Regions from separate parts of the Homo sapiens genome. Here region 2 is linked to region 1. Evidence: fine-mapped expression QTL. A gene starts in region 1. The other region holds a variant in brackets. All regions are shown on one strand. Distances are from middle to middle.

Region 1 (5,534 bases):
TCCTATGACAGACAGGTACAACTAGGGTCCAGCTGCGAATCTAGATATTTTGGACAGCAAATAGGAAGGTTATTTATACTGAATCATTTATCCAGTCATGGTCCAGAGATCACAGCTGAGAGTGGTGCTTATTCCTTATGTCTATAACAATATAAGCAATAGTATAATGACCACTAAAACACTAGGCCTAGGTATGCAGTTGAACATTCTCTCCCTCTGCCCTCCCTTTTATTCTCTCTCTCTTTTTTCTTACTTCTTTGCTTGTTTTTATTTTTCTCTCCCTCCCTAACTCCCTCCCTCCATCCATCCTTTCCTCCCTTCCTCCCTTGTTTCCTTCCATCCATTCTCCTTCCTTGTTTTCCTCCTTCCTTCCTTGTTTTTCTCTCTCTTTCTTTCCTTTTTGGGTACATAATGAGAATACTTTTTCCACAAAATCATTTGAAATAATTTTTCTCTATTTGTTCATGCCAACATTTATACAGCTAGTTTAACTGTTCAGTTTTCATTTTTACATTTTGGAAATTTGTTGTATTACTTTGTTTTGTTTCAAATCTGTTTTGTATATATAAAATATTTACATGGAACTGAAGTCAAAATCATAAAAGGTGATGCATTTGAAGATTTTAGCTTCCATTGTAGATTTCTTGTTCCTCTTTTCTCCCTGACACTACAGGTAACAATATTTTTGTCAGTTCACTTGAGCTGTTTCACTCTGTTTGTCATAGCAGAGTATGTATTGTTTCTATTTCAATGCCATATTTATATTTTCATTCTGATATTTGGTTTTTATACATTTTAATAAATCTTATATTTTCCTGTGTCTGGATTGTGTGTCTTACTTCTAAAGGTGCACATACTTCATAAGTATGCATAAAGACGTCCATATCATTTATTTGAATGTTTTTATGTGTTGATTATTTAATGATGGCATCATTGATCCATCAGGAATTTTTATACAATAATTACTGTATTAATAACAATAATACTGGCCACGCCCGGTGGCTCATGCATGTAATCCCAGCATTTGGCCAGTCCAGTCATTAGGATCACTTAGGCCGGGAGATTTGGACCCGCTCAGCCAACATGGTGAAACCCTGTCTCTACTAAATATACAAAAAATTAGCCGGCTGTTGTGGCGCACACATGTAATCCCAGCTACTTTGGATGCTGAGGCAGGAGAATTTCTAGAGCCAGGAAGGTGAAGGTTTCAGTGAGCTAATATCACACTACTACAGTCCAGTTTGGGCAATAGAGTGAGACTCTGTCTCAAAAAAATGAATAATGATAATAATAATATTGATGGTACATATGGGTGCTGACATTCTGGTAGTTAATGTACTAAGCACATTGCATGCACATTTTATTTAATCTACACAGAAACTTCATTAAGGGTTTAAAGTACCGTTGAATGTAACATAAGAAATTGGGGGGTTAATTAACATTCCCTAAGTCATATACTTTAATTTAATAATGATGGCAATCCAAGCTCTGTGGTTCTGAAAATGAGATTTGTTAATTTGATTTGCATTCCCCCATCTTTAGGAGTACTAGCAATATTTGACAACGTTATAGGTCATTTATAGTTCTTCTTTTGAGAATCGCCTTGTGATACTCTTTGCCTATTCTCCTTTTGGAGGATTAATTTTTTCTTATTGGTTCGTAAGAATTAATATATACTATTTTAGAGATACTGACCCTTTATCCAATGTGTTGAAGATATTACTCCTCATGTGTTATTATTTACATTTGGCACCTATGGTGAATTGAACTTTGAAAAATAAAATAATATCTGTCCATTTTTCTAGGGTGTCTAGTTTGATGCCAGGCTTAGAAAGGCCAATCTCACCTAGAACTTCTATGCAATTCATCATCGTTTAAGTCTAATGATTTTCATTTTATTACAACTAAATCACTATTTGTAACTAGTAAGGTAGAAATGCAACAATATTTGTTTCCATACAGTAAGTCAATACCAAAAAGAGAACTTATTAAATAATTGACTATTTCCTTGTGAATATTAATATATCACTTTATCACATGATAAAATATTACATACATGCAGCTCTCTTACTGCATTTTCCACTGTGTTCCATGAATCTTCTCATTCTAGTGCCAGTATTGCCCTCTCTTCAGCACTGTAGCTTTATAGTTCTTTTCACATTCTGATGAAGTTTCTCTCATTTTTTTGTTTTAAGAATTTTCTGTGCATTCTAGTGTGATCTCAATCCTCTCCCTTCCCAGTTTTAAACCGTGAGACTTCTGTCCAGCAAGACTTTTTCACGCTCCAAGGCAGGCAAGCTTCCCTCCTTCACAGGGACCCGAGAACTCAGCTTTCAGAGCTGTTCCTGCGGAAGCCTCATGTCCTCCACGTGTGCTCCAGAGGCAGAGGGAGACCAACTGGAGCCCCTTCCCTTTCTCATTCCCAGCTGTGATGACAGCAGAAACTGCAAAATTTGAGCTAGGACAACACAACAACCAAGAGAGACATTGTTCTACATCTCATTATGCATATTTCAAACATGTGTCTCTATATACTTCTTACAGAGGTGGTGGTAATCTGTGCATGCCCTACTGAATTTTCACAATTATATTACTGTACTTGTTTTGTCCCCTTATTTCCATCTGTGAATCCAGGTGCACTGCAGATATTAGTCTGCTTTCTGAGGGTAGGGATGACAAATAAAATATACAATACCCAGGGAATTTGGAAGTTCAGATATATAACAAGTTTTTAGTTCAAGTATGTTCCAAATATTTCATGACATGGCACCCAGTACTACTTTAAAAACAAACAAGCAAACAAACAAACTTACACTCCTACTTTAATGAACAAAAATTGTCTAATAAAGAGATCACACCCACAGGATTACAGGCACCCCCCCCCCCGCCCCCCGCCACACACACACACATTTACCTTAGAGCAGAGTCCAAGGCCCACCAACACACATGATCCTCAGTCCTTTTAATAAAGAACATTCAACCCTCCTCAGAGTGGCCTTGGGCAGTTGCCTCCAAGTGTCCTTGCAGATGTGAAAAGGAAGTTGGTTCACAGCCCTAATCAGAGGCTTCCTGGCAGGACAAGGTCCTGGCATCAGCATTAGCTGCTGCAACTCTGAAGGGCAGGGTGTGAGCCTGCTGTGGGACTGCCCCCTCCTAGGGCTGGGCCTGCTGACTCCAGGGGTCAGCTTTCCCCATATCTGCACTCCCTCTGCTGGAGGCCTGAACTCTCCATGCCCCTGGCTCTCTTCTGCAGAGGGCCTGCTCTCAGCTGCCACAGAGGGTGCTGCAGAACTGGCCTGAGCAGAGAGGCAGGAGCTCCTCTGCAGGTCCTCCCAGGCACCACCCTTCTGGAAGGAAGGCGTGGGAGTCCCCTAAGACACATCCTCAGTCACTTCTCCCTGCTTGTGACTCAGGAAGACCAGCCTTCCCCACTGCCTTCTGTGCTAGGGATCACTTCCTTGTTGAGTGGGACCTGAGTTTTGAGAGGATCTTCTGCTCCTGTTCATCTGGGCCCTTTCTTTCAAGACCCCAGAGACGAAGGCATGTGGTGGGCCCTAGCCCTGCTTCTAGCTTTCCTGTCTCTTGGTAAGTGTGCTGCCTACAGAGAGGCTCACAGGTTGGGTTTTGTTTTGGATTTTTCTTCTTTAGCAAGGGACGCCATACTAAGGAATACCTCATTATATTTTATGTTGTTCCCATTGCAGCCAGTCAGATATCTACTAACTTGGAAGCGAAAATAAAGTCAGGCACCAGGCAGATGGGGTCATCTGCTGTAATCACCTGTGATCTTCCTGTAGAAAATGCCTTCTACATCCACTGGTACCTACGCCAGGAGGGGAAGGCCCCACAGCATCTTCTGTACTATGACATCTGCAACTCCAGGGATATGTTGGAATCAGGAGTCAGTCAGGAAAGCATGATACTTATGGAAGTAGAAGGATAAGCTGGAAATTTATACCTCCAAAACTAAATGAAAATGCCTCTGGGGTCTATTACTGTGCCACCTAGGACAGGCAGAGTGATTCAGACCTGCTCTACACCACACTGAATATCTGTCTTGTGGCTGCTTCTGGTACACAAGAGAGAGCCGTCCCCTCTCATTTCCTGCCCTGAATTTACTGTATTCTGTACAAAGAGAAACAGCTTAACTCCTGATCTCCCCCCTAATATTACACTCTCCTGTCAGCAGCTGTACCCTGTTCCCCACCCTCCCCCAGGACTTTCCTGAAGACTAAGCTGCCATCTCAGCTAAGCCTCAGCTAAGCAGCCTGGCTGAGAGCAAGGTTTTCTCAGCTCTCCTAGGACATGGGGGAGGCCCACTCACTCTGTTTCTTAGGGTCCAGCTGTGAAGCGAGATATTTTGGACAGCAAATGGGAAGGGTATTTATACTGAATCATGTATCCAATCATGGTCCAGAGATCGCAGCTGAGAGTGCTGCTTACTCCTTATGTCTATAACAATATAGGCAATATTATAAATACCACTAAAACACTAGGCCTAGATATGCAGTTAAACACTCTCTCCCTCTGCCCTCCCTTTTATTCTCTCTCCTTTCTTACTTCCTTGCTTGCTTTTATTATTTTTTCTTCCCTCCCTCCCTCCCTCCCTCTCTCCCTCCCTTCCTTCCTTCCTTTTTTCATTTCTTCCTTCCTTGCTTTTCTCTCTCTTTCTTTCCTTTTTGGGTACATAATCCGAATATTTTTTCAACAAAATCATTTGAAATAATTTTTCTTTACATGTTCATGCCAACATTGATATAGCTAGTTTATTTGTTCAGTTTTCATTTTAAAATTTTAGACATTTGTTGTATTATTTTGTTTTGTTTCATATTTGTTTTGCATATGTAAACTATTTACATGGAACTAAAGTCATAATTTTAACGAAGATGCATTTGGAGATTTTAACTTACATTCTAGATTTCTTTTTCTCTCTCTTTTTTTTTTTTTTTTTTTTTTGAGACGGATTCTCAGTCTGTCACTCAGGCTGGAGTGCAGTGGAGCAATCTCGGCTCACTGCAACCTCCGCCTCCTGGGTTCAAGAGATTCTCCTACCTCAGCCTCCCAAGTAGCTGGGATTTCAGGTGCCCGCCAGCACATCCAGCTAATTTTTGTATTTTTGGTAGAGACAGGGTTTCCTCATGTTGGCCTGGCTGGTCTCGAACTCCTGACCTCAGATGATCCCCCTGCCTCGGCCTCCCTAAGTGCTGGGATTACAGGCATGAGCAACCTCACCAGGCCCCATTCTGGATTTCTCTTTCCTCTTCTCTCCCTGACCCTATAGGTAACAATATTTTTATCAGTTCAGTTGAACTTTTTCACTTTTTCTTATTCAGAACAAGTCTTTCAGTATTACAGAAAAGTCTTTTGTTTGTCATAGTGCAGTATATATTGTTTCTATTTGACCGTCATATTTATATTTTCATTCTGATAAGGTTTTATACATTTTAATCAATCTTTTATCTTCCAGTGTCTAGATTTTGTGTCTTGCCTCTAAAAGTGCATACACTTCATAAGTATGAATAAAGAAGTCCATA
Region 2 (5,000 bases), 93 kb before region 1:
TCACCTCCTGATCTGCCCACCTCGGCCTCCCAAAGTGCTGGGATTACAGGCATGAGCCACTGTGTCTGGCCCTCACTTTTCATACATTTCTCAGTTTTTAATGTCTGTGATGAATATTAATTAGAATAACTCCTATTCTTCAAAAATCTGTCTCCAAAAATCTGTTTTTATGTATACTTTACCCATTGGTTTGACGTTTCAATTTCTAGGCAACAAAGTTTTTTTAAAAAGAATTTTATATTGAATGCTAAACACATGTAATTTAAATTGTATGAAAACTGACCCCAACTCCCTTTTCTGTGATGTACTTTATGGGACTTTGTCTTAGCCTGGCCCTTTACTGTGTAACTTGAGCCTGGGTTATGCTGACTTCAAGCCCACATTGTTTTCATGTATTATGATACCACAAATAAATGAACAAATGATAATGTTTAGTATTATAGATTTTTTTGTATTATCAAAGCAGGACTTTCGTCCTGTGTCTTATTTGGCTTACCTTCTTTCTAATCCAAAAATATTATTAATGGGAGCTCATTTTGCAGCAAATGTTGGGAGGCATGGCTGTCTCTCTCCTCTCTCCCTCCCGTTCACCCTCACTCATACACATACACAATTGAAACTAACAATGCTATGGATGAAGACTGGATCAAATGATAACCAAATCAAGGGGTAGGGTACCAGTGAGGGAATGAGGCCGTTGGGATGTGGTCAGCAGTACACAATGGCACCTTCCTTTTAAAATTTTAGCTTCCCAGAAGAACATCAGCAGTATTGCTATAATGAGTCCAGATCTTGGCCCATTTTATCGATTGGGTCATCTGTAATTTCTTGATCCAAGTTCTCTGAGCTGACAGAGGAGACTCCTTGCATCTTGGTATATTAGGATACATCCTTGGAACATTCTCTCTGTTGACTGGACTTGGAGCTAGACAAAGGACAAGAGCTAGAGCCTGGGACACATTCCAGGGCAACTTAGGTTATACTTGGCCAGAGTTAGTTATTTCCTTCTCACTGCATTTAGCTGAGTGACTGGGTGCATATGGGTGAGCCACCATGCTTATAAAAGTGTGTTTTGGAGATACTCAATAATAATATTAGAGAGAGTATACATGGGCTATATCATGGTCTTATCAGATTCAAGCTAATACATGTTTTATTTTGTTTTGTTGTTTGCTTTAACAGAATGAAGTCCCTGAGGTGAAGAAAGAGGAGACTTTGCTGGATCTGGACTTTGATCCTTTCAAGCCCGAGGTGACACCTGCAGGTTCTGCTGGAGTGACCCACTCACCCATGTCTCAGGTATCAGGTGCTTTTTGGATGTTTGGAGATATTTCATAAACCTCAGTAAGCTCAGTGTGGTAACCAATGATCCCTATACCTTTCATGACTACTATCTATTTTTATTTTTGGTTGACAGATATTTCCTAATAGGAAAGAGGGGTAGAAAGGGGACCTTATCTATATCAGTTATTCTAAGACTCCCATGCCATCAGCTTTCTCTACCCATAGAGCTGGCATAACCATACATTCCTGTTTTCTCCCCCAGAGTAATTGTTACCAGTGCCCACGTTGCACTCAGAACTGTTCAGGTTTACAGGATACATTTTATGGTTTCCCTGGATGAAGCTCTTTCTTTTGGTTTTGGGTTTACTCTTCTTGCTCTTTTCTCTACTTCCCTTCCTCATACTTTGCAAGTTAAAGTGTGTTTGCAATGACCATGAAAGCACGGGCCAGCAGAAGCCGTTTTCAGTGTTGATCGTTCTGAACTTGATGATGCTGTGTTCATCCTCCCCATTGAAGAAGCTCCCCTCCTGTGATCATGGTTATGGTTTGATGGAGAGTCGCCTTGCTTCCCCAAGCCTTTTTGCTCACCACTCCCTCACACTCCATATTTCTTCCTTTCTTATAGTAACTGTCATTACATTCTCTGTCAGAGGATACTGGTGGTAGGTGCCATAATGACCTGTGGGTAGGTCCTCTGAAATATAGTTAGTTTACAACTGTCTGTGCTAATAGAAGGAAGTTAACTCAAAATTTGACAAAACAGAAACTGTTTATATAAGTACTTTGCATATGGTTGGAGCCCCACATATGAATTTAGGCAAATCCAAAGTTGCTAGAGTATGCTTCAAATGAATTAGTACAAGAATATTGTAACATTCAACCTAGGAATTAAGACCTAGCTTGATTCCCTGGCCTTGAAGCCTTCTTGGTATATCACAGTAAACTGCTAGGGAATAAATGGCTCAATATGAACCTTAATAAATAAGGATTATGTCTAGTCCATGCTTTTTTCTAGAATGTGATTGGGCTTCTAAAGGCTTTCCTGTTGTGCAATATGAACAATAAATGTCCAAGGTGTTAATAAAGTAAGAAATTAATAGTCTAAACACTAGCCTTGAAGATGCTTTGCAAAAAACAAAAGGGTCTCTTAGGTGAAAGTTCCAGGAAGCCTCCTGTATTAACTCTCTTCTAGAAGATTCATGATGTGCATTAGAATATTAAAGGCTGAGAAGTTCTGCAATTTAAAAAAACTGTTTATATTTGTTTAACTTAGAGTTTCCCAAATTTGTTTGACCACAGAAATCTATGTTAACTACACTTTTCTTAATATTCATTGGAATGTTCTCTAAAACAATATTTTGAGAAATGCTAAAGTATTGTCAACAAGTTTGAGGGTTCCACCTTGGTGACCAAGAAAAGTACAAAGTGAATGTACATATAATTGAATATACTTCCTTCTCAGAGATTTCTCATTATATAGACAGCCTGCAGAATTCACAGGATTTCCTCTGCCTTACTCTCCATGCTTCTTTTTTTTTTTTTTTCTTTGAGATGGAGTCTTACTCTGATGCCCAGGCTGGAGTGCAGTGGTGCGATCTTGGCTCACTGCAAGCTTCACCTCCCTGGTTCACGCCATTCTCCTGCCTCAGCCTCCCGAGTAGTTGGGACTACAGGCGCCTGCCACCACGACTGGCTAATTTTTTGTATTTTTAGTAGAGGTGGGGTTTCACCATGTTTGCCAGGATGGTCTCGATCTCCTGAC[C/T]GCGTGATCTGCCCACCTCGGCCTCCCAAAGTGCTGGGATTACAGGCATGAGCCACCATGCCCGGCCCATGCTTCATTTCTTTTGTGGCAGATGCAAAGTTTCTGCAGTGGATGCTGGAATGATTAGTGGGTGAGATTTCATAGCATTTCTGTCTACAAGTTTGAATCAGGAGAGAAACCTCTTTTATGTTAATTCATGATTACATTAATCCATAAATCATGAAACTGTGTGTGGCCTTATGACTAAGAGATTCTTCAAAATTAAACAAAAATGACCTTGGTTTAATCTTCAAAAGTTTTAGTTCTGAAGGACATATATCACCGCAGTGACGGCAAGCTGTGTGTGTCCCTGTGCTCTTCCTCAGGGCCAGGTAATAAAACCCTCTAGCCTCCTGGTGGCCATAACTGAGTCATTACACTATAGTTGTCCTGCAGTCCAGCTTTGATCATACCTCTCCTCTTTTGCTAAGAACAAAAGTCTTGACTGAATGACAAAAAAAGCATAGCACTGTTAGGTCTGCCTGGTTTCTTTCCTCTTCACTCAAAATGACCTCCTTTACCCATCACCTGACCCCATGTTTTCAAGTGGTGTTCTTGCTGCTAGCAGAACACCTCATCTTGTGATCTCTGCAGTATCTGTGCACGCTAACGCATCCTTTCATGATCCTGAGGACTGATAAACATGACATTTCATATTTCCTGCCTTCCTTTTAAAGAAAATAACTGGTGATGTGTGCATTATACAGAGACATGCACTAGCTTTTATGATCTTTGATTCTTTTTTTTTTTTTTTTTTTTTTGAGACGGAGTCTCGCTCTGTTGCCCAGGCTGGAGTGCAGTGGCAGGATCTCGGCTCACTGCAAGCTCCGCCTCCCGGGTTCATGCCATTCTCCTGCCTCAGCCTCCCAAGTAGCTGGGACTACAGGCGCCCGCCACTACGCCCGGCTAATTTTTTGTATTTTTAGTAGAGACGGGGTTTCACCGTTTTAGCCGGGATGGTCTCGATCTCCTGACCTCGTGATCCGCCCGCCTCGGCCTCCCAAAGTGCTGGGATTACAGGCGTGAGCCACCGCGCCCGGCCATGATCTTTGATTCTTAAGTGGCTATGAAGCAATGAAATGAGAATCATCTAGATAATCAGAAAACATATATTAGATCCATGTACAAAAAACTGTGGCTTTCCATGGAGCTGTTCTCTCCTGTCTTAGTCATCCTACGAGAAAATGCTAAGCAAGAGACCAGGCAGGCTGCATGGAGATGCAAGGCAGGCCATGCAGAACGGTTAGAATGGGACCCAACCAGGTGGGTGGGTATCAGAACCACAGGGCCTGCTTTCTATAATACGGAGCCCAAATGAGGCCTCTGCAATCTCAACCGAAAACCATCATATTTTTAAGGTGGCAATGCCAGGCTCTCTAGTTTGCTGTTGACATTTAGTAGTTCAAAATAAGTGCATAAACGTGGATCCATTCTAGTCACAAAGACATGGGCATAATCGGATGTGGCTTTAGCAGCAATTCTCAATCATAAAGGAAATAAGAAAGAGAAGTCTTCCCTGCTCCCCTCACCCATAGTGGAAGCCATTTGAACCATCTGGCCTCACTCCCCGGGATTCATAAGCTTTATAATTAAAATACCAGTAGTAAGTGTAATTCATTCATGTCTTAGGGGGTGCTCTGCCAATTTGTATGATTACCAATTCATTGAGCAGTGTGTTATCATCTAATTTAACATATTGAAGAACTATTTTTCTGGGGCTCATTTACCATTAAGCTGGTCATCCTACATCCTCTTGAATGAGATGGGAAGGAAATAGCATTAGCAGTGATTAGGGCCTGCATTTCCTCAAAGATGTGACAAGCTCTAAAATTTGGACACCTTGTTTACTTCATTTTAATGAGGTGTGTGTGTGTGTGTGTGTGTGTGTGTGTGTGTGTATTAAAATAACCTCATT

What was found. PIP is the estimated chance that this variant, and not a neighbour inherited with it, causes the effect.
Region 2: its variant is fine-mapped to the expression of TRG-AS1 in whole blood (INTERVAL, PIP 0.92).

The regions. Positions count from the first base shown.
Region 1 is chr7:38,339,180-38,344,713 of GRCh38, reverse strand. It overlaps TRG-AS1 (T cell receptor gamma locus antisense RNA 1), which reads right to left and starts at 3,293. Exons shown (of 4, transcript NR_040085.2): 1 at 2,915-3,293. It also overlaps TRG and the pseudogene TRGV6.
Region 2 is chr7:38,432,571-38,437,570 of GRCh38, reverse strand. It overlaps AMPH (amphiphysin), which reads left to right. Exons shown (of 21, transcript NM_001635.4): 12 at 1,183-1,299. Among named protein-coding and RNA genes, the nearest start is that of TRG-AS1, 94 kb to the right of the region's middle. RefSeq lists a silencer at 3,353-3,571. The variant C/T (reference allele first, on the strand shown) is at 3,047.